Linked DNA regions of Homo sapiens: regions 1, 2, 3, 4, 5 and 7 are each linked to region 6. Evidence: fine-mapped expression QTL. A gene starts in region 6. Each other region holds a variant in brackets. All regions are shown on one strand. Distances are from middle to middle. Region 1 overlaps ABCC1 (ATP binding cassette subfamily C member 1 (ABCC1 blood group)). Region 2 overlaps ABCC1 (ATP binding cassette subfamily C member 1 (ABCC1 blood group)). Region 3 overlaps ABCC1 (ATP binding cassette subfamily C member 1 (ABCC1 blood group)). Region 4 overlaps ABCC1 (ATP binding cassette subfamily C member 1 (ABCC1 blood group)). Region 5 overlaps ABCC1 (ATP binding cassette subfamily C member 1 (ABCC1 blood group)). Region 6 holds the start of ABCC1 (ATP binding cassette subfamily C member 1 (ABCC1 blood group)). Region 7 overlaps ABCC1 (ATP binding cassette subfamily C member 1 (ABCC1 blood group)).

Region 1 (4,586 bases), 45 kb after region 6:
CAGGGCCATCAACATTCATTAGGTGGATCAGTGAATGTAGACTCTGCGGTGTCACAAAGCAGCACCTGTACTCACTGTGCCTGTCTCGGGATGGAATCTAAGTCAGACATCCTTGCATCCCCACTTATGGGCTGTTCCTTCACCTTGCTGGTCCTCACCTTTCTCCTAGAGTTACGGGGAGGAGTAAATGTGCTAAGGCCATACACGCCGACTCTGCAGTGGCCTTGAACCATGCTTCTCTGTCACCCCTTTCGTTGCCTTGACAATGGCTGCAGCCTCCTTTCCCATCTCCCCTAGGATCTTCTCCTAGGGTCTCTTAATACAGGGGTCCCCAATCCCCAGAGCACGGACTGGCACCAGTTCATGCATGCCCTGTTAGGAACCAGGCCACAGGCCACACAGCAGGAGGTGAGTGGCAGGCGAGCGTGTGAGACTTCATCTGTATTTACAGCCGCTCCCCATCTTTTGCATCACCGCCTGAGCTCTGCCTCCTGTCAGATCACCTGTGGCATTAGATTCTCATAGGAGCGCGAACCCTGCTGTGAACCGTGTGCGCGAGGGATCCAGGCTGTGTGCTTCTTTTGAGAATGCAATGCCTGATGATCTATCACTGTCTCCCATCACAGCTGAGATGGGACCATCTAGTTGCAGGAAAACAAACTCAGGGCTCCCACCGATTCTACATAATGGTGAGTTGTATAATTATTTCATTATATATGACAATGTAATCATAGAAATAAAGTGCACAATAAATGTAATGCACTCGAATCATCCCCTACCCTGTCTGTGAAAAATCGTCTTCCACAAAACCTATCCTTGCTGCCAAAAAGGGGATGGCTGTCTTTTTTTCTTTTGAGATGGATTCTTGCTCTGTTGCCCAGGCTGGAGTGCAGTGGCACAATCTCGGCTCACTGCAGCCTCTGCCTCCCAGGTTCCAGCGATTCTCCTGCCTCAGCCTCCTGGGTAGCTGGGATTATAGGCACAATGGCACCGTGCCTGGCTAATTTTTGTATTTTTAGTAGAGACGGGGTTTTACCATGTTGGCCAGGCTGCTCTCAAACTCCTAACCTTGGGTGATCCTCCCGCCTCGGCCTCCCAAAGTGCTGGGATTACAGGCGTGAGCCACTGTGCCTGGCCAGGGACCACTGTCTTAATATGTGAATTAGGCGATGCCATGACCCTGCTTAATGCACTCCCAGGGCCTCCTGTGAGAATTAGAACAAAAAATCCATGCTCTGTACCATGCCTCCAAGATTGGCTATGTGGTGGCCTTTGGTGACTTCTCCCGCCCAATCTTGGGTCCTAGCTCATTGGTGCAGCCATATCCTCCCCCCACCCCACCCCACTGTGGCCTTTGCCTGTGCCATCTTTCTGCCTGGTATGTGCTTCCCGAGATCTTTGCACAGCCAGCTCTTCCTGACCCTTCCAGTCTGCTAGGATGTCATCTGCCCAGACCGCCACTCTGGTGCTTCCTGTCCTGACACCCCTGCTCTTTCCTTCACAGCAGGTACTGCTCTTTGTCATTATGTTCTTATCTGTGAGCTTTCATCTTTGATGGACTATGAGTCTTAAGAGGACAGAGATATCGTTTCTGATTTTCCCCCATGCCTGTGACTAGCCCAGGTCTAGGCATATAGTAGGTGCTCAATAAACAGTCATCGAATGATAGATTGAATGAATGAATGCATGACAGGAACCCTGCACTTATCTGTGTTAATCCGTCTCTTGGCTGCCGGGAACACCAGCTCCTGCAACCTGGCACTTGGGTCACCTGATTGAACCCTCCTGATAACTCTCTAAACTCTGTAATAGGTGGGTTCTAGAATTAGTCCCATTTCACAGATGAAGAAATCAAGGCCTGGTGAGGTGAACTGACTTGCTTTAGGGCAGCAGGGATGATTTTTGCCTCTCTGGAGATATTTGGCAATGTCTAGAGACAGTTTTGATTGTCATAACTTGAGGAGGTGGGGAGTGCTACTATCATCTAGTGGCAGAGGCCAGCGACGCCACTCAGTATCTTACAATGCACAGGATGGCCCCCGACAACCAAGAATTATTTGGGCTCAAATACCAGCGGTTCTGAGGTTGAAGAAGCCCTGCTTGAGGGCACACATCTGTAAGTGGTGGAGACGGGAACCTAGACCTGGAACCTTGTTTTGTTAACCACTACCCTGCACTGCTCACATGCGGGGGTGGGTGGGTGGGAAGAGTTGTAGAATGTTTCCATGTCTGAGTCAAAATCTTGCTTCTCTGCTCTAGGGAGATGAATTTGGAATCTGTGAGGCCTGAGG[C/T]CATTCACTTGATCTCCGGCCCTGGAGATCTTGCCTCCAAGCGACCTCAGGCTCCATCTGTCTGCCATGTACCTTGCAAACACCTTAGAATTCTGGCTGGGCATGGTGGCTCACACCTCTAATCCCGGCACTCTGGGAGGCCGAGGCGGGCAGACTGAGTTCAAGACCAGCCTGGGCAACATGGTAAAACCCTGAATCTACAAAAGATACAAAAATTAGCCAGGCATGGTGATGCGTGCCAGGTAGTCCCAGCTACTTGGGAGGCTGAGGCAGGAGGATTGCTGGAGCCCAGGAGATCGAGGCTGCAGTGAGCTGTGATGGTGCCAGTGTACTCAAGCCTGGGCAACAGAGTGAGACCCTGTCTCAAAAAACAAAACCAGCTGACCAAACAAACCAAAAGGCCTTAGAGTTCAAGCACGTGGTTTAGAGGTGGTGGATCTCAGTGTCAGACTCTCAGTGGGTTCAAATCCTGGCCCTGTTTCTTCTAGGTTGACGAGCCCAAGCAATTTACATAAACTCTCTGGACCTCAGAGCCCTTGCCAGGAAAGGGGAGAGTTTTAATAGTCCTGACTTTGTAGGGCTGTTGGAAAGCTTAAATGGACTGTGCTTGGGAAGCACTTAATCACTGTGCCTGGCGTGATCACTCTGGCTGTTATTATTGGCACCCAATAAATACATGCTTTCTCTTTGTTTCCAACTCAGCATTTAGAAATGTCCTACCCTTCAATTCCTGCTGCTATTTATTTATTTGAAGTGCGAACTAGCTTTCTTATTATTATTTTAGAAATCATGCAGAGGAGAAAATTCAAACAGTACGAAAGATAATACAACAAAAAATAGTAGTTGCCTTCCTCTCCCTGGTTTCAGGCCTACCCCCTGCAGATTAATTAGCTTTTTTTCTTTCTTTTTTTCTTTTCTTTTTTTTGCAATATGAAGTCTTGCTCTGTTGCCCAGGCTGGAGTGCAGTGGTGTGATTTTGACTCACTGCAACCTCCGCCTCCTGGGTTCAAGCAATTCTCCTGCCTCAGCCTCCCTAGTAGCTGGGATTAGGGCAGATCATGAGGTCAGAAATGTGACAACAGCCTGGCCAACATGGTGAAACTCCATCTGTACTAAAAATGCAAAAATTAGCCAGGCGTGGTAGCAGGCGTCTGTAATCCCAGGTACTTGCGAGGCTGAGGCAGGAGAATTGCTTGAACTCGGGAGGTGGAGGTTGCAGTGAGCCGAGACCACACCATTGCACTCCAGCCTGGGCAACAAGAGCGAAACTCCGTCTCAAAAAACAAACGAAACATCAAATTCCTGACTGTGTATGCTGCTTGCAGGTTATATATGACCAGGCCTGGTTCTGTATCTGTAAAATGGGTTACGTTATAGTACCTGAGTCCTAGAGTTGTGTGTGAGGATGAAATGTAATGTGAAACACTTAGAGTGGTGCTTGGCTGATGCAACTAATGAATCTTCCCTCTTACTCTTTCTATAGACAGAAGAAGGCGGCACAGGTTTCTTCATTGCTTTTCGCCCTTTGCTGAAATGTCATCTTGGCCCAGAGGCCCTTTCTGTCTACCTGATAAAGAACTAGCACCTGCCCACCCACCATTATGCTTCACCCACTTTCTTCTTCTTCAAGCCATTTGCTCCCATTGGGCATACATAGAGTTGTTTTTTTTAGCTGTTGGTAGTTTTGGCCGCTTTGCATAAAGTGAAATTGTGTGAGAGTGGAGACTTTATTTTACTTCCACATGACCTTGGCCCATGGTAGTAGTCGCTGATAAATGTCCACTGAGCAATAAGAACCCGACTGTTGCAAGTTACTTATTTATTTATTTTTGAGACAGGGTCTCAGTCTTTCACCTAGGCTGGAGTTCGGTGGTGCAGTCATAGCTCACTGCAGCCTCGAACTCCTGGGCTCAAGGGATCCTCCTTCGTCAGCCTCTGGAGTAGCTGGGACTAAAGGCAAACGTCATCACATCTGGCTACTTTTAAATTTTTTTATTTGTAGAAGGTGGGGAGTCTCACTCCATTGCCACCTCTGGTCTCGAACTCCTGGGCTCAAGTGATCCTCCTGCCTCGGTCCCCCAAAGTGTTGGGATTACAGGTGTGTACCACCACGCCCAGCTAAGTTTTTTTTTTTTTTTTTTTTTTTTTGAGATGCAGTCTCACTCTTTTGTCCAGGCTGGAGTGCAGTGGCCTGATCTCGGCTCACCACAACCTCCACCTCCTGGGTTCAAGCGATTCTCCTGTCTCAGTCTCCTGAGTAGCTGGGACTACAGGCGCACGCCACCATGCCCGGCT
Region 2 (4,586 bases), 69 kb after region 6:
TTCCTGGGAGGCAGAATCACCCCTGGTTAAGAACCACCGGTGGTTTATAGGTGGGGAATCTGAGGCACAGAAAGGTTAAATAAGTTGACAAGATCCCACAGCCAGTGTGAGAGAGCCAGGCCTTGATACAGCTCTGTTTCACTCCCAAGCCCTGTCTTCCTCCCATCAGGCAGCGGTGAGCAGTGAGACTACCCGTGATGGAGCCGGCTTTCTGCCATTACATCCCGGGGGGAGCTGGGAGCCCCTGGGGAGCCTGCAGTGTCCCTGTGGCTGAGTGGGTTTCTGCCACCTGCTCTCAGAATGTGATCTTGGTTTTTTTTTTTTTTTTTTTTTTGAGATGGAGTTTTGCTCTGTCACACAGGCTGGAATGCAGTGGCGTGATCTCGGCTCACTGCAGCCTCCGCCTCCTGGGTTCAAGTGATTCTCCTGTCTCAGCCTCCCGAGTAGCTGGGATTACAGTTGCCCACCACCACGTCTGGCCAATTTTTGTATTTTTAGTAGAGACGGGGTTTCACCATGTTGACCAGGATGGTCTCCAACTCTTGACCTCAGGTGTTCTGCCTGTCTCGGCCTCCAAAAGTGCTAGGATTACAGGCGTGAGCCACCACACCCAGCCCCAGAATGTGATCTTTTTCTTCCTTCCTTCCCCACCATGTAGGATGCCCAGGTGGACCTGTTTCGTGACATCACTTTCTACGTCTACTTTTCCCTCTTACTCATTCAGCTCGTCTTGTCCTGTTTCTCAGATCGCTCACCCCTGTTCTCGGAAACCATCCACGACCCTGTAAGTGTGACCACAGATGAGTGTGTGTGCGTGTGTGTGTGAGAGAGATGCGTGACACAGTACCAGCTAACATTTCTTAGATCCATCCAGGATCTCGTTCCAGCCTCCCTCAACCCCTGATACAGGGAATATCATCCCACCTACTTTACAGATGGAAAAACTGAGGCTTAGATGTGGCTGGGGGAGCTGAAGGAGAGAATCTGCTTTGTCATTGATGAACTGCTGTCTTGCAGGCCTGTAGGTTTCTCACTTGGCATGGTGATTTTGGAAAATGTGAGCAGATAATTACAAATCAGGTATTTTTTATGAATTCTAGCTGTCCAGATGTTCTGGAAAAGTAAAGTTCTGACAGATTAGGCCTATAATCCTACAGGGCAGAGCTGAGGAGTTGCTGGAGTCCCCGGCACTCCCTGTTGTATTATACTGGCATGCTTTCCTCACTTGTGGCAAATGCCTGGCCCCTGAGGGATTTGAGTGTGAGATCCTTGGTCTATTTTGTCAGTTTCAGAGAAATTCTGTAAATATGGAAACTTATCAGTGAGGAGTGTAGAGATGGCCACCGTTTCTGCTAGTAGAACAAAAGGGAACACTTTATTAATTTCCCTTAATTCTTTTCTTCTTTTTTTTGAGACAGGGTTTTGCTCTGTTGCCTAGGCTGGAGTGCAGTGGTGTGATCTCGGCTCACTGTAGTCTTGACCTCCTGGGCTCAAGCAATCTTCCTACCTCAGCTTTCTGAGTAGCTGGAATTACAGGCACACACCACCATGCCTGGCTAATTTTTTTTCTTTCTTCAACTTTTATTTTAAGTTCCAGGGTATAGGTACAGGATGTGCAAGTTCGTTACATAGGTAGATGTGTGCCATGGTGATTTGCTGCACAGATCAACCCATCATCTAGGAATCAAGCCCAGGATCCATTAGCTATTCCTCCTGATGTTCTCCCTACACCTGCTCCCCAACTTGGCTTACTTTTAATTAATTAATAATTAAAGATGGGGAGATGGTCTCAAACCCCTGGGCTCAAGCGATCCTCTTGCCTTGGCCTCTCAAAGTGCTGGGATTACAGGTGTGAGTCACCACGCCTCGCCTATTCTTTATTTTTTTAAATAGAGATGGGATCTTGCTGTGTTGCCCAGGCTCATGTGCAGCTTTTGATAAGAGAGATCTGGGAAGGCCTGCCCAGAAAACTGCATGTGAGCGGAGACCTAGAGGGGTGAGGTAGTGGGTGGAGCAAACACCTAGAGGAAGAGTGTTCCAGGCAGAGGGGAATAAGTACAAGGGCCCTGGGGTGGGGAGGTGTGGAGAGAACAGCAAGAAAAGCCAGCACAGCAGGAGAAGGCTAAGAGACAGTGGGTGCCTGAGAGGTGGGACAGCCCCCTTGTGAGCCAGATGAGCTGTTTGGGTTTTATTGTGAGTATGGGGCAGGGAGGCCTTGGAGCACCTATTTGATGCTGATTCATGGCTAGTCAGCTGGTAATGGGCGGATTGCAGTGGGAGAACTTTTCACCTCTGT[G/A]GTTCTGTTGGGTTTGGCCTAAACCTCTGTGAGGGGCAGAGGCTCACCTTGTGGGTGACGAAAGGGCTTGGTGGGCATCAGTATGGAGGAGGAGGTTGATGATAACTAAGAGATTTTAGAAACCTATGTCTCAGGCCAGGTGTGGTGGCTCACACCTGTAATCGCAGCACTTTGGGAAGCTGAGGCAGGCAGATCAGTTGAGTTCAGGAGTTCGAGACCAGCCCAGCCAACATGGTGAAATGCCATCTCTGCTAAAAATACAAAAATTAGCCAGGCATGGTGGTGCATGCTTGTAATCCCAGCTAGTCGGGAGGCTGAGGCAGGAGAATCTCTTGACCCTGGGAGGCGGAGGTTGCAGTGAGCAGAGATCACACCACTGCGCTCCAACCTGGGTGACAGAATGAGACTCTGTCTCAAAAAAAGAAAAAAGAAATGCATGTCCCAGTGTATGTTCTGAGGAGTCCCGTGTTGGTATTTCCTTGCCCAAAGAGGAGCTGGGTTGGAGAAATGAGCAAGTGCACACATCTGTGTATGTATTCCTGTGCATCTGTGTGTACGTGTGCATGTGCCTGCTTGTGTGTCTCGGTAGTCATAGGCATGTATATGCGTGTATGTGCTTATATGTGAATGTGTGCTTGTGAGTGTGTTTATGTTCATGTATGTGTGTGTTTGTGTGTGTGTGTGTCTTTGTGTTGTGTGTGCTTGCATATGTATAAAGTTCACAAAGGCAATGGTGACTCATGCCTGTAATCCCAGCACTTTGAAAGGCCAAGGCTAGAGGATCGCTTGAGCCCAGGGGTCACCCCATTTTGGATCCCTGGCTGGTGCCTGACACAGAAGAGAGGGGCTCATGAGTCAGTGGCTGTTATATGTATTGTGTATCAGTGTGTGTAAGTGTGTGGCAGCCGAGTGTCCCTGTTTGTCAAATGTTGGGCTATTCTTTTTTGTCTTTTGTTTGTTGTTTTTTTCTGTTGTTTTGTTTTGTTTTTAGACGGATTCTTGCTCTTGTTGCCCAGGCTAGAGTGCAGTGGCATGATCTCGGCCCACTGCAACCCCGCCTCCTGGGTTCAAGCGATTCTTCTGCTTCAGCCTCCTGAGTAGCTGGGATTACAGGCGCCCATCACCATGCTCGACTAATTTTTGCATTTTTAGTAGAGATGGGGCTTCACCATCTTGGCCCGGCTGGTCTCGAACTCCTGACCTCAAGTGATCCACCCGCCTCGGCCTCCCAAAATGTTGGGATTACAGGTGTGAGCCACCGTGTCTGGCCGAGCCATTCTTTAGAACTGGGATTTATACAAAACAAGTCACACCTCAACTGGGTGGCTGCAGACCTTGGATTGCTCAGGGTAAACAGAGTCTGGTTGGGGCTGCCTGGCTGGCGTGGGGATCACCCAACCCATCAAGCTTCCTCTGGGAGCCTGGGAAGAGCTCTCTTGCCATGGATGGTTCTGGAAGCTTTTTGAAGGAGGGACTTTCTTAATTTCTGATCTCCCTTGGGAATCTGGATAAATTCCCTTTCACTTCTCCCCTGGGCGTGTGTGTACCAGGGTGACTCACAGATCTGACTTGGACCTTTTTTTGTGCTTTCTGCATTCCTGGCAGCCTGGGCCTGGGATTTGCTCTGCCACCCTGGGTGACATGAAGCTCTCAGCTCTGGCGGCTAAAAGGCTACACTGTTGTGGGGCTGGGACACCCTGACTCTTCTCCCCAGTCATTGTTTTCTGTTTCTGTGTCATCTCCCCCAGCTCGGCTCCTCCTGTGTCACTGCTGGTCTTCCAAGATGGTGGAAGACACTGTGGTTTGTCTCTTTGCAGTCTCGCTCTGTCGCCAAGGCTGTAGTGCAGTGGCATGATCTTGGCTCTGCAGCCTCTGCCTCCCAGGTTCAAGCAATTCTCCTGCCTCAGCCTCCTGAGTAACTGGGACTACAGGCGCACACCACCATGCCTGGCTAGTTTTTGTATTTTTAGTAGAGATGGGGTTTCACCGTGTTGGCCAGGATGGTCTCGATCTCCTGACTTCAAGTGATCCGCCCACTTTGGCCTCCCAAAGTGCTGGGATTACAGGCTTGAGCCACCGTGCCCGGCTGTGGTCTGCCTCTTGTGCAGTGAGATCCAGCAGGGTGTCAAATGTGGGTGTGCAGGCTGCTGCATTTCTGACATTTGTGCACCTGTCCAGGAGAGAACACTTTGATTGGCTGACACTCTCTGTCCAGGAAGCCTGAACTTCCCTCTGGGTTCCTGTTCAGGAACCCCATGGGGTTGCCATTTACCTTTTTGCAGATTAGAGT
Region 3 (4,586 bases), 150 kb after region 6:
ATCACCCCCAAAAGAAACCCCAATCCATCAGCCATGACTCCCTATTTTCCCCAGCACCTCCGAAGCCCTAGGCAACCACTAATCTTTCTGTCTCTCTAGATTTGCTTATTCTGGACATTTCATATAAATGCCATCACAATAGGTGGAATGTTGTGACTGGCGGCTTTTACACTTAGCGTGGTGTTTTCAAGGTTCGTCTATGTTGTAGCTTCATTTCCTTTTATTGCGGAATAATATGCCATTGTGCAGATAGACCATACTGTGTTGATCTGTTCACTGGTTGATGGACATTCAGGTTTTTTCCACTTTCTGACTCTTGTGAATACTGCTGTCATGAGCCCTGGTGGTTTTAAAGGAAAAGTTGGTGGCCGGGTGTGGTGGTTTGTGCCTGTAATCCCACCACTTTGGGAGGCCAAGGCGGGTGGATCACTTGAGGTTAGGAGTTCAAGACCAGCCTGGGCAGCATGGTGAAACCTCGTCTCTACTGAAAGTACAAACATTAGCTGGGATGGTGGTGCACACCTGTAGTCCCGGCTATTCGGGAGGCTGAGGTGGGGGAATCGCTTGAGCCTGGGAGTCAGGCTGCTGTGAGCCAAAATCATGCCACTGCACTCCATCTGGCCTGGGTGACAGAGCAAGACCATGTCTCAAAATACAGTTGGATTTTTGTTTCTTGCCAGTGCATGATAGCTGACATTCCCTTCAGCTTTTAAATTATTTGATTAGACTGAATTTCTGCATGTTCATTCCCTTGTGGTTGGGAAGTTCTACCTTGAGTCTAGCCTGTTTCTTCTTGCTGCAGAATCCCCCTTTGTCTATCTCTCAGCCCGAGCAATGCATTGTGGCAACTTCTCGGTGACTTTTTCACTGACCTGCTTGGCAGGCTACTTTTAGGTGACAATACCCTTTGTGCTCTCTAAATCAAAATGTGTGGGTTTAGCTGAATCTTTTGCCCAGCGTGAGGTCTGTCTCTCTACCCTTCCGTCCAGGTGAGCAAAAAATGTCCTTAAACTCTCTTGGCCCCAGATAGGTTCCGCACCCCCGCCTTTCTTTCCCAGCTGCTAGAGTATCCAAGCAGTGTATACAGAACATGGAAGGCTGCCAGATGCTTTGTGATTTTTGTACACATCAGCACTTAATTTGGTGATGCAAATGCCGCCCACCACCCTGGCACCTCGTGCGTTCATTTTCCCAGTTTGACCTCCCTACCTCCTGCCTTTGAGGTTACATAGAAGTCCTTGGCAGTGGGTCTTACATCAAACTGGGGCACCCCCCTCTCTCACCACCCACCCTTTTCCATTGCTCTGGAGGGGCCCTGGCTATAAAGTCTTGACATCAGGGTCTGGTCTTGCCCAGCCTTAGCCAACTCGAAGCGCCAATGACCTTGGGTTTGTTTAAACCACATTTTTGGCTCTTCCTAAAGGGGAACTTTTTTCCTTGTTGGATTAATCAGCTCTTTTTTTTAGAACACCCAGGCTGAAGGGGTGCAGGTGTTGGTATTTGGTTTGGGAGAATCCTTGAGGGGGGATGGGCAGGAACCAGGCTTGTGAATGGGGCCATACCGACCTCTCTCCCGGGATATTCAGTTTACTGATTTCTAAGAAATATATCTTTTTTACTGTTTGTCTCCCTCTCTCCTTTTTTTTTTTTTTTTTTTTTTAACTTTTAATGGCATTCCTTTTATTCCTAATTTATTCCCATGCCATAAGCTTTTGTTTCTTCAATTTCTTCTGGGATATATTTTTCTTCTGTGCAGCCTCCCCTTCCGGTTTAGGAACAGTTTGTTCCCTTTCAGGCAGGATCATCTGGATGTGGCAGAGTGAGCTCACGTATGGGTTAATCCGACCGACCCTGAGCTCTGTAGGTCCGGCGACGCAACTTAGGTGCTTTCTTCAGTTGGATATGCTCAAGGACCAGAGAATCTGCATCTGAACCCTTAAG[TTCAGTGTGACTCTC/T]TGTATTTTTAAGCATGTGCAGCAGAAATTCAGTGCTCTTTTTGGGCCGCCGACCTTGTGGCCAGCCCCACTTCTTGGCCTGGGTACATCTACCAACTCCACCATTATAATGTCAGAATGGTACATGTTGTTTCTGTAAAGTGGCATCTTTCTGATACTTTGTGGCCTTTTGTACGTGCATACCTTTGATGGCCTGGGCGCTTTCAGGAGTGTTCTTTTTCTTTTTCTTTTTTTTGAGACGGAGTCTTGCTCTGTCGCCCAGGCTGGAGTGCAGTGGCGCGATCTTGGCTCCCTGCAAGCTCTGCCGCCCAGGTTCACGCCATTCTCCTGCCTCAGCCTCCCGAGTAGCTGGGACTACAGGCGCCCGCCACCATGCCCAGCTAATTTTTTTTGTATTTTTAGTAGAAACGGGGTTTCACCGTGTTAGTCAGGATGGTCTCGATCTCTTGACGTCATGATCCGCCCGCCTCGGCCTCCCAAAGTGCTGGGATTACAGGCGTGAGCCACTGCGCCTGGCCTTTTTTTTTTTTTTTTTTTTTTGATACAGAGTCTCACTTGTTGCCCAGGCTGGAGTGTAGTGGCACGATCTTGGCTCACTGCAGCCTCCACCTCCCGGGTTCAAGAAATTCTTGTGCCTCAGCCTCTCGAGTAGCTGGAGTTACAGGCATGTGCCACCACGCCCAGCTAATTTTTGTATTTTTAGTAGAGATGGGGTTTCACCATGCTGACCAGGCTGGTCTCAAACTCCTGGCCTCAAGGGATCCTCCTGCCTCAGCCTCCCAAAGTGTTGGGATAACAGGCATGAGCCACCATGCCCGGCCTCACAAATGTTCTTAAGGTGAACACGAAGATTTGAACCTCTTGATCTGCATGATTCTGTGGTGTTTTCTGGATAAAGTGAATAGTGAACCATTTTCACAGATTGCCTCAAGCCCCTTAGGGGAACAAATTTTTAAGGGATTTAAAAAAATGGCTCATTAACCTTCATACCTGGAAGGTAAAACACATCTTCATGACTCTGGTTTCTTTCTTAGGAACCTAATACCTAGAGCAGTGGTTTTCCATCAGGGGCAAATTGCCCCCACCCTGGGGACAGTTGGCAATGTTTGGAGACATGTTGGGATGTCAAAACTGGAGTGGGGTTTGCCCCTGGCAGGCAAGCAGGGTAGAGGCCAGCGATGTCGCTAAACATCCTACAGCACTCAAGACGAATTCCCCCTTACCCTGCCCCCCGTGACAGGGAATCCCCTTGCCAGGACATCCAAAGCACCACGAGCAAGAAACCCTGTGTGCTCCGACTTCACACTGCTGAATTCTTCCCTTGTCCTCTTGGGAGAAGGATCTTTATTCCAACAATGTGGCCATTTTTCTCTTTTAAAAAATTTTATTTATATATTTTTATGTTTTTTTATGGAGATGGGATATCAGTCTGTTGCCCAGGCTGGTCTCGAACTCCTGGGCTCAAGCGATCCTCCCACCTTGACCTCCCAAAATGCAAATGCTGGGATTATAAGCATGAGTCGCGGCACCTGGCCCGTGGCCATTTTTCAAAACCTTGCTTGAACCATCTGTTAACCTCATGGCAAATATTTTTCCCTCTTAAGTATTTACCGAGTTTTTCTTAATGATTATAAAAGCAACATGTGCTCATCGTAGACATTTGCAAACTACAAAAGAGTACAAAGAATCAGGAAAAAAGGTGGCTCATATGTGTAATGCCAGGACTTTGGGAGGCCAAGGTAGGCGGATCACCTGAGGGCAGGAGTTCGAGACCAGCCTCGCCAACATGGTGAAACCCCATCTCTACTAAAAATACAGAAATGTCAGGAGGCTGAGGCAGGAGAATAGCGTGAATCCGGGGGGCAGAGCTTGCAGTGAGCCAAGATTGTGCCACTGCACTCTAGCCTGGGTAACAGAGCGAGACTGTCTCAAAAAAAAAACAAAAAAACAAAAAAAAACTCCCGAGAAAGAACATCTTTCTGCCCTCACTGCCCAGAAGGGGAGCTGTTGTTAGCTTTGGCATCTTTTTCACCTGTCCTTCCTTCCTAGGCCTTCTCCCTTGACAAGATTGAGAGTATATCTTAGAGTTTTCTCATCTCCTGCCACCTTTTGATTTCTTTTCTTAACAGTGGGCCATAAGCACCTCCCCAAGTTACACAAATTAGTTGTCAGCACAGAGCAGCTGCCGAGAGAGTTCATCAGACAGACCCCCACATTCCTTCTGGCTGTCCTCAGAGGCCGGATTTCTTCCTCTTTTGAGGATGAAGAGCTTTCTCTGCCGAGGCTGGGGGAGGAGGTCAGTGAGGCAGCCAGTGAATGCCGTTTTTGGTCAAAAATGAGGCGTTGACTATAAAGCTGTGAGTTGAATTCTTCCCTCCGGGGAGGCTGGCCTGCTGGACCTTGCCCAAGCAGAGTTCCAGAACCTTCTTGAGTAAAGGCAGTGTTGGTGGAATAAACAGTGAGAGGACTGGCAACGGAATACACAGACCCGGGGCAGCACTTAACGTACGTGGGTCAAGGGTAGAAACAGCACCTGGCTTGACAGCATCCAAAACCCAACACCTGGTGGTTGCATGAACTCAGTGACAGTCACTGAATTACAAGTTTCGTGTGTTTGCTTTAAAAAAAAAA
Region 4 (4,586 bases), 77 kb after region 6:
ATTTAATAATCAGGTGTTGTGCCAGGGGCTGAGCTAGAAAGAAACAGACCTTGACCACTGCCCTGGAGGAGAGATGGAAGGTGGGTGGCAGGCAGTTGAACCAACAACTGCAGGATGGACAGTGGGGGCTCTGAGGGAGGGAAGTGCTGGGAGTTGTGGGGGCTGGGAGAGTGGTCCCTGACTCAGCCTGGGGCTCCAGGGCTAGCATCCAGGGAGGAGAGGGGATGCTCAAGTCTAAGGAATGCGAGGCTCTGGCCAGGTGAATATGTTTGGAGGTGGTGGGGTGGGAGGGTGCTCCTGGTAGAGCAACTGGCATGTGCAAAGGTCCAGTTGAGGGAGCTTGTGGGTGTTGGGAATCACTTGGAATTCGGCTTGGCTAGGCTGGGTGCAGTGGCTCATGCCTGTAATCCCAGCACTTTGGGAGGCCGAGGCAGGCAGATCACCTGAGACTAGGAGCTCAAGACCAGCCTGGCCAACGTGGTAAAACCCCGTCTCTACTGATCATAAAAAAATTAGCTGGGTGTGGTGGTGCATGCCTGTAATCCCAGCTACTCGGGAGGCTCAGGCAGGAGAATTGCTTGAACCCGGGAGGCGGAGGTTGCAGTGCGCCGAGATCGCGCCACTGTACTCCAGTCTGGGCGACAGAGCAAGACTCTGTCTCAAAAGAAAGAAAGAAAAAAAGAATTCTGCTTGGCTAGATTGGAAGGGCTAGGATGTAAGCGAAAAGAGAGGCAAGAGTCAGCATCAGAGATCAAGGGTGCAATTATGTGTCACAATAAGGACTTGGAATTTTTTGTTTGTTTGTTTGTTTTGAGATGGAGTTTCACTCTGTCACCAAGGTTGGAGTGCGGTGGTGCCATCTCAGCTCACCGTGCCCTCCACCTCCGGGGCTCAAGCGATCCTCCCACCTCAGCCTCGCAAGTAGCTGGGACCATAGTTGCGTGCCACCACGCCCAAGTAACTTTTTCTGTTTTTGGTAGAGATGGGGTTTCTGTATGTTACTCAGGCTGGTCTTGAACTCCTGAGCTCAAGTGATGCCCTGCCTTGGCCTCCCAAAATGCTAGGATTACAGGGATGGGTGAACCACCACATCCAGCCAGGACTTGGAATTTTAACCCTACTGTGGTGGGAGCTGAGGAAAGGTTTTTCACCAGTGGAATGACACACTCAGGTTGGACAGGTTGTGGAAGATCCTCAGGCTCAAAGGAAGAGGATACATTGGACATGGGGGTGAGGTCGGTGGCACTTAAAAAGCCTTTGCAGGCACCCAGGCAGGTAGAGAGGGAGGCTGAGCCAGGATATTCCCCTGTGCCCACTACAGCATCAAAAACCAGAAAAAGGGCCAGGTGCGTGGCTCACACCTGTAGTCTTGGCATTTTGGGAGGCTTAGGGGGGAAGATTTCTTGAGACCAATCTGGTCAACATAGTGAGACCCCATCTCTTGAAACAAAAAAACAAAGAAAACAGACAAGTTGATGGGCAAAGGGCATGGGCAAAGATTCTGGGGTGTGCTCCAGTAGAGGAAACGGAGGTCCTGGGCAGGGAGGCATTTTGCACAGTTGGTAAGCAACAGGGCAAACAAATCACCAGTGTTTACGTTATACTGGCAAATCTCTTACTGCTGGACATTTAGGCTCCGTCTAATAATAAGGATAACAGCTGGGTGCACTGTATTATTTATTTAGTCCTCACAGTAGGGCAGGATGATCAGTCTCCCCACTTGACAGATGAAGACACTGAGGGTCAGAGTGGTGATGTGTCAGGAACCCTCCCACTGGGTTCTCACGCTTGAAACACAGATTGCTGGTCCCCACCCACACAGTTTCTGATGCAGTAGGTCTGGGTGGGGCCCGAGCATCTGCGGTTCCCAACAAGTTCCCAGGTGCCACC[G/C]ATGCTGGTGACAGAGCTGCGTTTGAGGATCACTGCTCTAAACATTATTGCTGCTGCACGCATTGCCTCCTGCTGGGTGCAGGGGTTGTGGGGGGCACTTTGGCAGTGCAGAGCGGAGGTAACCAGCAGAAAACCCGTTAGAACTAAAAGCTGAGAGTGTTTCTGACAAACAGGTCAACATGCTGAAAGACCCAGACAAGGTCCTTAAACTACCCTGCGCTCCAAGAATCAGTGCCTGGGGCTGCCGTACCTAATTGGTTCAAACCACAGGGTTTCTGGCCAGCTCATCTGGTACCAAACGTAGATGTCAATATGGTGGATGCCAAAGAACACATCACTCTGTTTGGATGAATCAGGCTTTTCCTCCCTCTGCCTTCAGCCAGGACTTCTCTGAATTGTTTTCATTTCAAATGAAAGAGGGACCAGTTCACAAGCTGCTTTCATGCTATCTGGGACAGGAGTTACTGTATTTCAGTGTCTGAGGCTGGGAAACCCCCTGGAGGTGGCTCTGTCTTTTGTACCTAGTGTGTGATGTCAAAAGATTCTCCTTGGTTTGGGTTAAATGACATGCTCCCTGGATTACAATCCAGTGCCCCATGATTTTTTTTCCTCCTTTTTTATTGTCAATCCTTGACCTACTTCAGAAGTTAGTTGTCTTTGTTGTCAAGTAAGGCCTTCCACGTCAGATAGAGGCTGTTTCCAGGCCGGGTGCAGTGGCTCATGCCTGTAATCCCAGCACTTTGGGAGGCCGAGGTGGGTGGATCGCTTGAGGTCAGGAGTTTGAGACCAGCCTGGCCAACATGATAAAACCCCCGTCTGTACTACAAATGCAAAAATTAGCCAGGCATGGTGGTGTGCACCATGTAATCCCCGCTATGTGGCAGGATGAGGCAGGAGAACTGTTTCAATTTGGGAAGCGGAGGCTGCAGTGAGCTGAGAACGCACCATTGCGCTGCAGCCTGGGCGATGAGAGTGAAACCGTCTCAAAAAAAAAAAAAAAAAAAAAAAGGCTATTTCCTTTTTTTTTTTTTTTTTTTTTTTGCCAGTGAAGGGGGGACCCTGTGTTGGCCTCCCTATCGGTCACTTGAGATAATCTGAAAATCTGTGTTTAGATCCATAGAAGAGAGGCGGCCTGAGGAGAAGAATTTGACAAAGCTCTTTGAGTGTGCAAATTAGAAATGGCAATTGCTGGGCGCGGTGGGTCATGCCTGTAATCCCAGCGCTTTGTGAGGCCGAGATAGGCGGATCAGTTGAGGTCAGGAGTTCGAGACCAGCCTAGCCAACATGGTGAAACCCCATCTCTATCAAAAAATCCAAAAATTAGCCAGGTGTGGTGGCAGATGCCTATAATCCCAGCTACTCAGGAGGCTGAGGCAGGAGAATTGCTTGAACCTGGGAGGTGGAGGTTGCAGTGAGCCGAGATCGGGCCACTGCACTCCAGCCTGGGCGACAGAGTGAGACTCAGTCTCAAAACACAAAAAACAAAAAACTGTGCAGTGTTCTGTCTGTCAATGTCCTTGTTGCATTTGCAGGGCAGGTTTTCTACCAGTGGCTGGGGACTTAGTTTTACTGGGCCGAGGGAAGGTTAGGATTTGAGGGTCTTGTTAAGCTGGATATGGGCTGCATTTCAAGCCTCCCCTGGCTGTCTCTATCCTGCGTGTTGATGCCAAGGCTGAAGAAGACTGGATTTGCAGGCAAAAGACTGTCATTTGAGGCCTGTTTTCACCCCTTAATCACTGTGTCTTGGTATGTTGTGGGGGTTGAGGTAGGCAGAGGTTAGCCAACCTTTTCTGGAAAGGGCTGGCTGATAAATACTTGAGGCTTTGCATCCCATACACTGTCTGTGGCAACCCCTAACTCCGCTGTGTAGCTCAAAAGCTGCCATACTCATTTATAATACATAAATGAATGGGTGTGACTGTTCCAATGAAACTTTATTTATAAATAGCTGGTCTGTGGGCCATAGATGCTTCTGATATATAAAGCATCTGGTATAGTGGTGTATTGTGAACCCACTGGGGTTTTTTCCCCCCCAAACACTTGAGCTTTATTGATGTATATTGACAAATAAAAATGGTATATAGGTTGGGCACGGTGGTTCATGCCTATAATCCCAGGACTTTGGGAGGCCGAGGCAGGTGGATCACTTGAGCTCAGGAGTTCGAGACTAGCTCAAGGAATAGAGTGAAATTCTGTCTCTACAAAAAATACAAAAATTAGCTGGGTGTTGTGGTGTGCGTCTGTAGTCCCAGCTACCTGGGGGGCTGAGGTGGGAGGATCACTTGAACCTGGGAGGTCGAGGCTGCAAAGAGCTATGATTACACTACCGTGCTCCAGCCTGGGTGACAGAGCGAGACCCTGTCTCGAAAATATATTTAAGGTGTACAGTTTTATGTTTCCATATACCAGAGGCTACTGTCACTGCTTCTATTATTATTACTACTACTACTACTCATGTTACCCTTTCTTTGGCTGTTACTTTGTGCCAGGTACTATTCTAAGTACTTACCATGTTTGATCTCATTTAATCTTCACCACCAAGGAACTGACCCAAGGTCCCACAGCTAGGAAATGGCAAGCTGGGATTGAGCCGTGCCAGCTAGCCCCGTGCTATGCACTGCTTCACACAGAAGCTGCCCCTCCACCCCTGCCGCCTTCCTTTTCCTTTGTTCCTTTGTTATCAGCTGGCCGTTTCC
Region 5 (4,586 bases), 130 kb after region 6:
ACAGTAAACATTAGCAAATTAAAGGCTCTGACAAGTCCTGCAAGGAGAAAAAATCTATTAACTGTTTAACCTTATGTGTCCCAGGTGTACTTGTCCGCACCTCTTTAGTGTCTGTGCAACTGCACATTTGTCTCTTGGAATCTGCCTTTGGGAATGTCAAGTTTATGACGTTGTTTGTTGTTGTGGGTTTTGAGACAGAGTTTTTTTTGTTGCCCAGGCTGGAGTGCAGTCGTGTGATCTTGACTCACTGCAACCTCTGCCTCCTGGGTTCAACCGATTCTTCTGTCTCAGCCTCTTGAGTAGCTGGGATTATAGGCACCCACCATTACTGCACCCGGCTAATTTTTGTATTTTCAGTAAAGACGGGATTTTACCATGTTGACCTGGGTAGTCTAGAACTCCTAACCTCAGGTGATCTCCCCATCTCGGCTTCCCAAAGTGCTGGGATTACAGGCGTGAGCCACCGCTCCTGGCCTAGTTAATGACATTGTTTTTATTTCAGAGCAAAACCCTTTCTTTGATTATACAGTGCCTTTAGAAAGTATACATTGTGGTTGGGTCCAAATTAATGACCTTTAGCTGTTGTTTTAAGAAATGTTTTATCATTACTTTCAAGTTCCTGCCATAAAATAAGATGAATGAACCATGAGAGCTAGATTAATGGAAGAAAATTCCAAATCCCGATGGGATCCACATTGCTTTCTGTTTCCTTAACCCCAGCTTTCTGCTATCCTGGCACTATTAGCATTTCAGGCCAGATGATTATTTATTATTGGTTGTTTGGCCTAGGTAAGGGGAGTGCTAGAAATGTATATAAAATATTTATCTTTTCCCAAATGTTTTAGTTGGTGTGGTTTGTGTATATTATGTCTGAAATTTCTGTGGGTTCTATGGTAAGGCACCACTGTTGACATTTTGGCTTTTTAAAAGTTAGGATATTCAAGTCAGCAGGTTAATTATTTGAGAATTTAGAGTAAGAATGAGGGTACCTGGGACCTGCTGTCAGCTTTGCCCTCTCTAGAATTCCCTTATTCAAGAATCTTCTGGCTGGGCGCGGTGGCTCACATCTGTAATCCCAGCACTTTGGGAGGCTGAGGCAGGTTGATCACCTGAGGTCAGGAGTTTGAGACCAGCCTGACCAGCATGGCGAAACCCCGTCTCTACTGAAAATACAAAAATTAGTGGGCCTGGTGGTGTGTGCCTTTAGTCCCAGCTACTCAGGAGGCTGAGGAAGGAGAATCCCTTGAGCCCGGAGGCAGAGACTGCAGTGAGCTGAGATCTTGACACTGTATTCCAGCCTGAGCGACAGCAAGGCTTCGTTTCAAAAAAAAATCTTCAGGGGCTCCCCTTGCCCCTCTGATAAAGCCCATGCTCCCCACCAAGTATAGGCCCCCTTGCTGTCCCTGGTGTGTTTTCTGCCAGTCGTTCCCTCACAGGATTGATCGATGTTCCTGTCACGCTGGCCTTTCTGTTCCTTGAATGTGCCAAGTACTTTTCACTTCCAGGCCTTCGCATGTGCTGTTCCCTCGGACTTGAATGCTCTTCCCTCTTCTCCTCATGAAACTGACTCATTCTTCACTTTTTGGTTCTTGTCTAAACATATGTTTGAGCTGAGCATGATGGCTCATGCCTATAATCCCAGCACTTCAGGAGGCCAAGGCAGGAGGATTGCTTGAGGCCAGGAGTTTGAGACCAGGCTTAGCAACATGGCAAGATTTTGTTTCTACAAACGTAATAAATATATAGAGAATTAACTACCTCAGCATTTTCATTAGCAAAATACACAAAACAAATATCCTTACTCTAGCCTTTATTCTCATGCTGTTTGTGATACCTGACATATGGAAATAAAAATAAGCCTTTGAAATGGATGCTTGATATAGGAGTCTTTGCTTCAATTTTTAGCAAGGATATTTCCTCAAAGATCCTTCCCGGATGTCCCAAACTAGGTCAGTCTTTTAATTTTTTTGAGACAGGATCTTGCTCTGTGGTCCAGGCTGGAGTGCAGTGGCACGGTGCAATCTCAGCTCGTGGTACCTCCATTTCCTGGGCTCAGGTGATCCTCCCACCTCAGCCTCCCAAGTAGCTGGGACTACAGATGCACAGCGCCATGCCTGGCTAATTTTTCTATTTTTTTTAGAGATGGGATTTCTCTATGTTGTCCAGGCTGGCTTTGAACTCCTGACCTCAAGCAGTCTGCCTGCCTTGGCCTCCCAAAGTGCTGGGATTACAGGCATGAGCCACTGCGCCTAGTCAAGTTAGACTCTTAAAAAGTGTC[A/T]TATATCTTTTTATCTTTGCGTCCACCGTAACTGTAATCAAGTAGTTTTCCGTCACCTGAGGGACTTCCACTCTTTGGAAGCAGGGGTTTTGATCACCGCTGTAGGCATTGAGTTAATAGCTAGCTACTAAGTAAATAACTGTAATCTTATCAACGAGGATATCAACTCTTTGACTCCTGATATTGGAGTCAGTGATTCACCTGCTGTGGGTTCTGATCCCAGCCCTGGCATCTGTTGTCCTTTGTGAGTCAGTTTCCCTCTTGCCAAAGCAATAGTTGTGATGAAAATGACTTGTGAAGTGAGGCCCTCCTAGCAGGCGGGTGGGCCAGCTGTTGTCTCGTTGATCAGATCTGTCTGTGTGTCTGTCTCACCTCGTTCTCCATTTGCAACTTAGGGCTCCGTGGCCTATGTGCCACAGCAGGCCTGGATTCAGAATGATTCTCTCCGAGAAAACATCCTTTTTGGATGTCAGCTGGAGGAACCATATTACAGGTCCGTGATACAGGCCTGTGCCCTCCTCCCAGACCTGGAAATCCTGCCCAGTGGGGATCGGACAGAGATTGGCGAGAAGGTCAGTATAGGTTGGATGTTGGCCCCTGAATCAGTCAGCTGTTGCCGCGTAACAAATGCTCTCACAATCTCAGTGGGCTGTGAGTCTGCTGCTATCAGCTGACCCGGCAGGGCTCAGCTGGGCGGCTCTGCTGCACGCTGCAGGCCAGCTGAACTTGGGTCCAGGCTGTGGGTGTGGCTCAGGTCTCACTTACAGAGCTTTTGCTGGGGACCGGGGTGAGGGGTCCACAGCTTTCCAAAGGGGGGCTCTTCTCATGGTGGCAGCAGAGGCCCAAGATAGGCCCCCCAGAAAGCATGCAATGTCCCTTAAAGTACACTGTCCCTTCTACTCACAAAGCAAGTCACTTGGCCAAGCTCAAAGGCAAGGGACCAAGAAGGAAGTACATTCTACCTTTGTGGTCACATGACTGCAGAGTCACATGACAGAGGGCATGCTGTTGGGAGGAGGGGAGTCGATGATTCATATGTTCACAGTCCCTGTCAAGATAGCCATAATACTGAAAATAGCACAATAGCTAACACTTACTGAGCATTTTCTCTTTCTTTTCTTTCTTTCTTTTTATTTATTTATTTATTTTTGAGATGGAGTCTTGCTCTCTTGCCCAGGCTGGAGTGCAGTGGCACGATCTCAGCTCACTGCAACCTCTGCCTCCCGCGTTCAGGTGATTCTCCTGCCTCAGCTTCCTGAGGGGCTGGAATTACAGGTGCATATCACCACACTCGGCTAATTTTTGTATTTTTAGTCGAGGCAGGGTTTCACCATGTTGGCCAGGTTGGTGTCTAACTCCTGACCTCAAGTGATCCGCTGGCCTCAGCCTCTCAAAGTTCTTTTTTTTTTTTGAAATGGAGTCTCTCTCTGTCGCCCAGGCTAGAGTGTAGTGGCTCACTCTTGGCTCATTGCAACCTCTGCCTCCTGAGTTCAAGTGATTCTCCTCCCTCAGCCTCTTGAATAGCTGGGACTACAGGCCCCTGCCACCACGCACAGCTAATTTTTGTATTTTTATTCGAGGCAGGGTTTCACCATGTTGGCCAGGTTGGTGTCTAACTCCTGACCTCAAGTGATCGGCTGGCCTCAGCCTCTCAAAGTTCTTTTTTTTTTTTTGAAATGGAGTCTCTCTCTGTCGCCCAGGCTAGAGTGTAGTGGCTCACTCTTGGTTCAACCTCTGCCTCCTGAGTTCAAGTGATTCTCCTCCCTCAGCCTCTTGAATAGCTGGGACTACAGGCCCCTGCCACCACGCACAGCTAATTTCTGTATTTTTAGTAGAGATGGGATTTCGCTGTGTTGGCCATGCTGATCTTGAACTCCTGGCCTCAGGTGATCTGCCCGCCTCTGCCTCTCACAATGCTGGGATTACAGATGTTAACCACCTCGCCCGGCCTATAACTTGAGTATTTTCTGTATGTTGGGAACTATGCTAAACATTTTACACGTAATTCTTCCCCACAGCAAGCCCATGGGTGGAATTTGTTGTTATACCTAGGTAATCATTGAGGAAAAAGGAGGCACAGAGAGGCCAAGTGACTTACCTGAGGCCACACAGCCACAGAGCTGCAGAGAGCATGGTTCCTGTGTCCATGTTGTTACCTGCTCATTTTGTCATCTCTAAAAGGGCCATTCTCTGCCTCTCACCACTGCAGACCCTCCCTCCTGCTGTGCTCCATCTCCCAGGTTTTCCTGCTGCTTCACAGCAACCCCCAGCCCCTGCCCACCTCCACACCTTGGTCTGAGCCTTCAAG
Region 6 (4,586 bases):
TTGCTAACTTAGGCCCACTTTTGCCCACTTTTTTTGTTTGTGTTTTTGAGATGGAGTCACACTTTGTCGTCCAGGCTGGAGTGCAGTGGGGCCATCTCAGCTCACTGCAACCTCCATCTCCTGGGTTCAAGTGATTCTCCTGCCTTAGCTTCCTGAATAGCTGGGATTACAGGCACCCACCACCATGTCCAGCTAATTTTTGTATTTTTACATTTATTTATTTATTTATTTGAGATAGAGTATTGCTTTGTCGCCCAGGCTGGAGTGCAGTGGCATGATCTTGGCTTACTGCAACCTCCGCCTCCCAGGTTCAAGTGATTCTCCTGCCTCAGCCTCCCGAGTAGCTGAGCCTGCAGGTGCCTGCCACCACACCCAGCTAATTTTTGTATTTTTAGTAGAGATGGGGTTTTACCATCGGTCAGACTGGTCTCGAACTCCTGACCTTAAGTGATCTGCCTGCCTTGGCCTCCCAAAGTGCTGGGATTACAGGCGTGAGCCACCATGCCCGGCCACCACTTTTTTTTTCTAGCTGTGACCATAGTTGTACATATCTCCCCTTCCCTGGCTTTTTTTTTTGTTTTTTTTTTCCTGAGACAGGATCTCGCTGTGTTACCCAGGCTGCAGTGCAGCGGTGCAATCATAGCTCACTGTAGCCTTGAACTCCTGGGCCAAATGAGCCTCCCACCTCGGCCTCCCAAAGCACTGAGATTACATGCGTGAGTCACTACTTCTGGCCTGTAAATACCCTTTCAAAAATATAATATTTGATTAACATCTGCCATCTTACCATAAGAAACACTTAAAAAAATCCCAATCCAAAAAAATTCCAATCCTTTAAGCTATATAAGAGTAGCAATTTTATCTTGTTCCTAGCAAGACATCTGGCATATAGTAAATGCTCAATAAATATTTGTTGACAGTATAAAGGTCAAGCAACAGCATAACTGGCATTATTACATGAAAGTAATTATCCCTTAGAAACTCATTCACCCTTGGGGGACCCGGGCCAATAAAAAAATCACAGAAAACAATCCTATCTACCTTCCTCCTTCCTCCTTCCCTCGCTAGGTCCTTTGATTGGGGGGAGGTCTCAAATGCACACACTGTTTCTGTTTTATTTGGTGCAGCTGTTGTGTGCATGTGTTATGGAAACCCACATCAGGCAGGAGATTAAGGAGGAGAGGAGAAAAGAAAGGCATCGCTGGTATCACAGTGAAATTTACACTCTGCGGCCTCGCCCTAGCTCCTCTGTCTCTACCTGTCTGCCTATGAAACAGTTCAAAACTAATATGGCGCAATGGATGGTATTATAGACTTCCCACCTCCCTGGCCAGACTTCTTGGGTTCAAAGTTTGGCTTAATCACTTACCATCTAAATAATCCCTGACAATGTACTCTGTCTTTCTGGGCCTTAGTGGCCTCATCTGCAAAATGGGGATAATACTACTTCTTACCTCATGGGGTTGTGAGGATTGCACAAGTTAATTTGTGTAAATTGCTAAGAACACAGCCTTAGGAAGCCTTGTCACTGTGAATGCATATTAATTTTTTTTATTATTATTTTTTGAGACAGAGTCTTGCTCTGTTGCCCAGGCTGGAGTGCAGTGGTGTGATCTAAGCTCATTTCAACCTCCGCCTCCCAGGTTCAAGTGATTCTCCTGTTTCAGCTTCTCAAGTAGCTGGGACTACAGGTGCCCGCCACCATGCCCGGCTAATTTTTGTGTTTTTAGTAGAGACAGGGTTTTGCTATGTTGGCTAGGCTGGTCTTGAACTCCTGACCTTATGTGATCGGCCCGCCTCGGCTTCCCAAAGTGCTTGATTACAAGCACGAGCCACCATGCCTGGCCTACGATTATCATGTCTCCAGGCTTCAGTTTCCTTACCTCTGAGGTGAGGATCAATAACCTGGTTATTTCTAAGTGATGCTTAAAGAGGTTGAGAAGAAGCAAAGGCGCTCTGCACACAGGTGAGGTCAACAGCTGTTAGTGATGGAGACTGGCGCCGTCTGGGTCATCAGTGCTCCGGAATCAGGCTGCTCACGGGTTTGAATCTCACTTCCACTTTCACTCCTTATTAACTGTGTGACCTCGGGCAAGTCACTTCGCCTTTCTGAACCTCAGTTTCCCCATCTGTAAAAGGTAGGTGAATAACAGTATTCACCTCCTTCTGTGTGACTCAGCTTTGGAGTCAGCGGACCGGGTTCAAATCCCAGCCCTGCAAGTGATTAGCCAGGTGACCCTGGGCAGAGGGAATCACTCAACCTCTCTGCACCTGGGTTTCTTCCTTCATGAACGTGGAGACTTTACAGGATGAAATGAGGGCACAGTTAAGGCGCCCGGTACACTCCAGGCAGGTAGGGGGCTCCGTTCACGTTATTTTCCCCTGGTGACGGATACTGTCCTTAAACAGCATTTGAAAAGTGGTCGCAGGGTGTGTGGCCCCAAAGATCCCAGGCGCTTCCGGAAGGCGAGCCAACGCTCCCCAGGCCCGTCCGCGAGCGGGTGGGCCTAAGCCTTGGAGGATCTGGGGTGGGGGTGGCGCGGGGTCCAGGCCCGGGGCGCCGAGAGGTGGCTGGTCCGGCTGCCCACGCCGAGACGCGCGAGGTGAGCGGGCGCCGGGGCGGGGCGGGGTGGGGCGGGGCCGCCGCATCCCCGTGACGCGCGGGCCAACCAGGCGGCGTTGCGGCCCCGGCCCCGGCTCCCTGCGCCGCCGCCGCCGCCGCCGCCAGCGCTAGCGCCAGCAGCCGGGCCCGATCACCCGCCGCCCGGTGCCCGCCGCCGCCCGCGCCAGCAACCGGGCCCGATCACCCGCCGCCCGGTGCCCGCCGCCGCCCGCGCCACCGGCATGGCGCTCCGGGGCTTCTGCAGCGCCGATGGCTCCGACCCGCTCTGGGTACGTGCCGGGGGCCGCGTGAGGCCGGCGGGACGGAGGGAGGCCGGCGGGGAGGGAAAGCACCGGGCCCGCAGCCGCCCGGGGCACCCCGCTCCCCGCTCTGCTGCCGGCCTCGGGGGCCCGGGACCCTCACGTCGCCCGCGGCCCAGCCCCTTTCGGGGGTGCAAGGCATGGGGGAAACTTGGGTGACTCAGTTCCTGCGGAGCAGAGCGTGGGGGGCCGCGTGCCCAGCCCTGGGGTTTTGGAGGGTCGGGTCGGGTCAGAGCCGCCGTGAGGAGGCCTTCCTGTTTTGGGGTTCCCGTCTGTAAAAACAACCTTCCAGGGAAGGGGACGCTAGAGATGGGGGGCGGGAAGAGGGGTGTCTCTCTGCTTCTGTTTTCCCATCTTTTTTGTGGTTAGGGTCCCCCCTTTTCACGAAAAATACTCCGTGACCAACGGGGTGAGCTGGGGAGGGGCTTAGATTGTAGAAAGGGACTTTCATTGTCTCCCCAAAGTTGTCGTACAAGCCACATTACTCTTCTGTGGTTACCTAGCTTTGTTTTTTTTGTTCTTTCTACTTAGATACTGCGGGGGAAGTTTGGGGGAACCAGGGAAGAAGGGGGATGTCCACCCTTGATGTGCCCTACCTGACCCTCGGCTCGGGGCAGACTTGGGGTGCAGCTGAGGACGCCCAGGACCCTGGTAGCTGTGGTCCTGCCCTCCCTTCCCTGCAACACGTGGAGCTCCTCTCTGGGGATGCCCCTTAGATTTAACCCCGGCAAGTTTTCTTCTGTAACGTGGCCTGCGGAGCCTGACTGGGTGTCTGGAGTCCACTTGCTGTGGTTTAAGCCCCAGTCTTTTGGGCTTCAGCTTCTCCGTAATGCGATTTGCCTCTTTGTTCCAGGAAGGCAGGCACTTCTGTCTCGTGCTGTCTTGATTGTTGGTGAACGCAGTAGGCAAATCTGGACACGACTGTTTCTCTCTCCTCTTTTGTTTAGGAATCAGGAGAAACAGCCTTGGTTCTTAGGAGCTGGTGATCAGCTTCCAAAAATACTTTCTTGTCCTGTTTTGCCGGCCTTTCCTCGAGGGTTGCATTTGGAGTGTTGAAAAGTCATCCTCCAGGGCCCCATTGGAGGGTTTGGTTTTGTTTGTTTGTTTTTTTTAGTAGGGTATCATTGTGTTTAATAACCTACCACACTTTGATATATCTCCCATTTTAAGCCAGTGGGGTTGGAGAGTAACCCCAGGGGTGGAAATAGAACACAGACTTTGCCTTGAGGGTCTGGGGGTGATTGGAGCCTCTTTGCAGATGGACTTTCTTTAGCAGGGGAAAACCTGTGGCTTCCTTGTTGCCAGGTGTAGTAACAGCAAGATTATTTTTTGCAAAGATTCACATGGTGATCTGGGTTTGTGTTGCTGTGAATTCCAGAATATTCTCTTGTTTATTTTCTTCTGAATTGAGGAGGGGGCAAAACAGGGTGAACATCCATGAGGTTTTGTATCAGGACGTATTTTATTGATGGCAATTGGTAGTTGATGGCTAATGAGTATGTTTGGGGTGCGCTTTGTTTATCTTAAGAAACTCATTCACGAAGTCCAGTTGTAATATTTTTTAAAATTTTTATTTTCTTTTTTCTTTTTATTTTTTCCTTCGTTAAGGACTTTCTGCCACAGAAATTGCCAGGTGGTTGGGTTTTGCTTGGGGGTAATTGTAG
Region 7 (4,320 bases), 55 kb after region 6:
ATTATGTAACGTATGCTTCCTTCGATTTGATAACAGAAGATGTATATTTACTTTATTTTTGTATAAAATATTTTCTGAAAGAAGACATAAGCAACCCATGATCATTGCCTCTAGAGAGAGGAACTGAGGGGAGGGCCATAGGGAATGGAATGAGAAGACTTGTCCCTTGTACCTCTTTGTTCAAAAGAAATATCAAGAATAAAACACATCTATGTTACTGATAAAGATAGTTTCCAAAGGCTGTGTGCGGTGGTTCACACCTGTGATCCCAGCACTTTGGGTGGCCAAGGCGAGTGGATCGCTTGAGCTCAGGACTTTGAGACCAGCCTGAGCAACATGGCAAAACCCCATTTCTACTAAAAATACAAAATTAGCTGGGCATGGTGGTGTGTGCCTGTGGTCCTAGCTGCTCAGGAGGCTGAGGTGGGAGGATTGCTGGAGCCTGAGAGGTTGAGGCTGCAGTGAGCTATGATTGCACCACTGCATTCCAGCCTGGGCAACAGAGTGAGACCTTGTCTCAAAAAAAAAAAAAAAAGTTCAGTTTTTAATATTAGCTAAGTAAAAAAAAGCAAGGTATAGAATGGAGTATCGTAGTGCCTTTTGTGGCAACAAAATAGGTCGTATTTGGAATATATCTGGAAGAATGTAAGATGTTAGCAATGGTAGCTTGCCTGTAGGGTAGCAATGGGGGGCTGTTAATTTGGGGAGAAAGACATATTTTTCACTGTATACCTTTTTGAGTAATTTGAAAGAGTTTTAGCACACAAATATATTACCTATTAAAAATAATTACAAAGAGAGGGAGACATGGGTGGATGCATGGATGGATAGTTGGTTGGGTAGATGGATACATAGACAGGTGGATGGATTGGTTGGTGGATGGATGGATGAACTGTTGGGTGGGTAGATGGATTGATGGGTGAATGAATTGGTAGGTGGGTAGGGTGGATGGATGAATTGGTGGATGGGTAGGTGGATGGATGAATGAACTGGTGGGTTGCTGGATGGGTGGATGAATTGGTAGGTGGGTGGATGGATGGATTGATGGGTGAATGAATTGGTAGGTGGGTAGGGTGGATGGATGAATTGGTGGATGGGTAGGTGGATGGATGAATGAACTGGTGGGTTGCTGGATGGGTGGATGAATTGGTAGGTGGGTGGATGGATGGATGGATGGGTGAATGAATTGGTAGGTGGGTAGGGTGGATGGGTGAATTAGTGGATGGGTAGGTGCATGGATGAATGAATTGGTGGGTTGGTGGATGGGTGGATGAATTGGTAGGTGGGTGGATGGATGGATGGATGGGTGAATGAATTGGTAGGTGGGTAGGGTGGATGGGTGAATTGGTGGATGGGTAGGTGGATGTATAAATGAATTGGTGGGTGGGTGGATGGATGGATGAACTGGTGGGTGGGTGGATGGATGGATGGATGGGTGAATGAATTGGTAGGTGGGTAGGGTGGATGGGTGAATTGGTGGATGGGTAGGTGGATGTATAAATGAATTGGTGGGTGGGTGGATGGATGGATGAACTGGTGGGTGGGTGGATGGATGGATGGGTGAATGAATTGGTAGGTGGGTAGGGTGGATGGGTGAATTGGTGAATGGGTAGGTGGATGGATGAATGAATTGGTGGGTGGGTGGATGGGTGGATGAATTGGTAGGTGGGTAGCTGAATGGATGAATTGGT[T/TG]GGGGGGGGTGGATGGATGAATTGGTGAGTGGGTAGTTGGGTGGATGGATGCATTGGTGGGTGGGTGGATGGATGAATTGGTGGATGGATGGATGGATGGGTTCATGGTTGGGTGATAAATATATCCATGGGTATACATATGGATGTGTACATAGATAATTCTCTGGCTATGATAGGGAGGACTGGCTGTGGTGGGGAACACTGACTGTGGTGGGGAGCACTGGCTGTAGCGGGGAGGACTCAGTAGGACAAGGAGAGGCTGGAGGCAGTGAAGACTTAGGAAGCAGTTGCATAGTCCTGGCAAGGAATAATTTGGGGCTAGGATCAGGTCAATTAAATGTTTAACATTGGAACTATGTCTCTTGTATACATAACTGCATATGTCAAGTCTTGGTATCGTTTTCTTTCTAGCAGGGCACATTCCTTTGGAATGAGCTTTTACTGGCAACTGCTCAGAAGCTGTTCTGTATATAATGACCACCAACAGTTTAATCCTTTTTTCAGCCATCACCTCAGGAATTAACAGTAGTATGAAATCAATTAAAATAATCAGTCTTTGAGATGTCATGCCTTCTCCACGATCAACTTCTTCTTTACAAGGCTGTGTTCCAAATACGCCAGGCCAAAAAGACGTGAACTTTGTCCTTTTTAGGGTTTGTGTCTTGATGTTTCCTGGCTAAATCTCTTTGTATGTGTTGGCCTTGTAAGGTTTACTTTTTTTTTTTTTTTTTTTGAGATGGAGACTGTGTTGCCCAGGCTGGAGTGCAGTGGTGCAGTCTCAGCTCACTGCAACCTTTGCCTCCCGGGTTCAGGTGATTCTCCTGCCTGAGCCTCCCTACTAGCTGGGATTACAGACGTGCACTACCCTGCCCGGCTAATTTTTATGTTTTTAGTAAAATATAAAAATTATGTTTTTATGGGGGGTTCTTGCCATGTTGGCCGGGCTTGTCTCAGACTCCTGACTGCCTGCCTAGGCCTCCCAAAGTGCTGGGATTACAGGCATGAGCCACCGCGCCCAACCTAATAACTAGATCTCTTTAATTATTGGAACATGTATATTTTGATCAGATTGACACTTTTTTTTTTAAGTGAAGTGATCTTATTTCCCTCATTTCTCATTTTTAACTTTTTTTTTTTTTTGATATGGCTTTAAAGCTCTGTGGAGCTGTAAGGGTCTGGGTTCCTTGACACTCCATGGGGGTCTCAGGTGATCGTGGGAGGGCTGTTGGAATCAGAGCTATTTGGAGGGTGCATAGGCCAGTAGGATGGGAAGGCTGTGGGAGAAGTGGGCTTTTTGGGGACCGCAGCCAAATGGACAACTGGGCCTAATCTAAAGATTGGCCCCTCCCAGCTCCTACTGATGGTCATGTAACAGGAATGGGGCCCAGCACCACCAGATTTTCTGATTTTTTTTTTTTTTTTTGAGACACAGTCTTGCTCTGTTGCCAGGCTGGAGTGCAGTGGCATGATATTGGCTCACTGCAACCTCCGCCTCCTGGGTTCAAGTGATTCCCCTGCCTCAGCCTCCCAAGTAGCTGAGACTACAGGCATGCGCCACCATGCCTGGCTAGTTTTTTGTACTTTAGTAGAGATGAGGTTTTACCATGTTGGCCAGGATGGTCTTGATCTCCTGACCTCGTGATCCTCCTGCCTCGGCCTCCCAAAGTGCTGGGATGACAGGCGTGAGCCACTGCGCCCAGAAGATTTTCTGATTTTTAAAGTTATGCCAGAGACCGGGCGTGGTGGCTCACGCCTGTCATTCCAACACTTTGGGAGACTGAGGTTGGCAGATCACCTGAGGTTTAGGACTTCGAGACTAGACTGGCCAATATGGTAAAACCTTGTCTTTACTAAAAATTCAAAAAAAATTAGCCAAGCGGGGTGACCGCAGTCCCAGCTATTTAGGAGGTTGAGGCAGGAGAATCACTTGAACCCGGGAAGCAGAGATTGCAGTGAGCCGAGATCGCTTGAACCCGAGAAGCAGAGATTGCAGTGAGCTGAGATCATGCCACTGCATTCCAGTCTGGGTGACAAAGCAAGACTCTGTCAAGAAAAAAAAAAATAAAAATAAAAAGCCGGAAATCAAATTTTAAATGTTGGGATCTAATCTAATTTTTTTAAAAACAAAAAGTATGCCTAAAACAACAGCAATAACAACAAGCCATCTATGGGCCAAACTGTGGGTGGGGAAACCTATTTTGTACTTCTTATTTTATCCGATTGAATTGTGGTGGAGATAGGAAATTGAGACCCCAAAAAGGGTAGTAAGTTTTCCCAAAGTTATTTAGTCAGTTGCCAGATTATGGCTTGAATTAAATTTAAATTCTTCAGCTGGGCATGGTGGTGCACACCTGTAGTATAGCTGCTTGGGAGGCAGAGGTGGGAGGACTGCTTGAGCCCAAAAGTTCAAGGCACAGGAAGCTGTGATCTTACCACCACACTTCAGCCTGGGCAACAGAGCAAGACCTCATTTCAAAAAAAGAAAAAAAAAAGAAAAATTTAAATTCTTCATTACAGAACAGCTGATGGTGGAGGTTTATTCTTGGGCAGGTACATCTGATCTATTTATGTATGTATCTATGAATTTGTCTATTTGGCATGGCTCTTTAGCAAAATACAGGCTTTTTTT

The links.
Region 1: its variant is fine-mapped to the expression of ABCC1 in whole blood (TOPMed, PIP above 0.99).
Region 2: its variant is fine-mapped to the expression of ABCC1 in whole blood (INTERVAL, PIP above 0.99).
Region 3: its variant is fine-mapped to the expression of ABCC1 in whole blood (INTERVAL, PIP above 0.99).
Region 4: its variant is fine-mapped to the expression of ABCC1 in whole blood (TOPMed, PIP above 0.99).
Region 5: its variant is fine-mapped to the expression of ABCC1 in whole blood (TOPMed, PIP 0.91).
Region 7: its variant is fine-mapped to the expression of ABCC1 in whole blood (INTERVAL, PIP above 0.99).

The regions. Positions count from the first base shown.
Region 1 is chr16:15,991,564-15,996,149 of GRCh38, forward strand. All of the region lies in intron 1 of ABCC1 (ATP binding cassette subfamily C member 1 (ABCC1 blood group)), which reads left to right. Among named protein-coding and RNA genes, the nearest start is that of ABCC1, 44 kb to the left of the region's middle. RefSeq lists enhancers at 1-328, 329-860. The variant C/T (reference allele first, on the strand shown) is at 2,292.
Region 2 is chr16:16,015,838-16,020,423 of GRCh38, forward strand. ABCC1 (ATP binding cassette subfamily C member 1 (ABCC1 blood group)) reads left to right here. Exons shown (of 31, transcript NM_004996.4): 5 at 659-784. Among named protein-coding and RNA genes, the nearest start is that of ABCC1, 69 kb to the left of the region's middle. The variant G/A (reference allele first, on the strand shown) is at 2,297.
Region 3 is chr16:16,092,342-16,096,927 of GRCh38, forward strand. The region is part of intron 19 of ABCC1 (ATP binding cassette subfamily C member 1 (ABCC1 blood group)); the gene reads left to right. It also overlaps the pseudogene RPL17P40. Among named protein-coding and RNA genes, the nearest start is that of ABCC6, 130 kb to the right of the region's middle. The variant TTCAGTGTGACTCTC/T (reference allele first, on the strand shown) is at 1,942.
Region 4 is chr16:16,023,558-16,028,143 of GRCh38, forward strand. The region is part of intron 5 of ABCC1 (ATP binding cassette subfamily C member 1 (ABCC1 blood group)); the gene reads left to right. Among named protein-coding and RNA genes, the nearest start is that of ABCC1, 76 kb to the left of the region's middle. The variant G/C (reference allele first, on the strand shown) is at 1,891.
Region 5 is chr16:16,080,693-16,085,278 of GRCh38, forward strand. ABCC1 (ATP binding cassette subfamily C member 1 (ABCC1 blood group)) reads left to right here. Exons shown (of 31, transcript NM_004996.4): 17 at 2,674-2,850. Among named protein-coding and RNA genes, the nearest start is that of ABCC1, 130 kb to the left of the region's middle. The variant A/T (reference allele first, on the strand shown) is at 2,279.
Region 6 is chr16:15,946,908-15,951,493 of GRCh38, forward strand. ABCC1 (ATP binding cassette subfamily C member 1 (ABCC1 blood group)) reads left to right here and starts at 2,709. Exons shown (of 31, transcript NM_004996.4): 1 at 2,709-2,892. The coding sequence starts at 2,845. LOC107984869 (a long non-coding RNA gene) reads right to left here and starts at 2,264. Exons shown (of 3, transcript XR_001752339.2): 1 at 1,884-2,264.
Region 7 is chr16:16,002,253-16,006,572 of GRCh38, forward strand. The region is part of intron 1 of ABCC1 (ATP binding cassette subfamily C member 1 (ABCC1 blood group)); the gene reads left to right. Among named protein-coding and RNA genes, the nearest start is that of ABCC1, 55 kb to the left of the region's middle. The variant T/TG (reference allele first, on the strand shown) is at 1,692.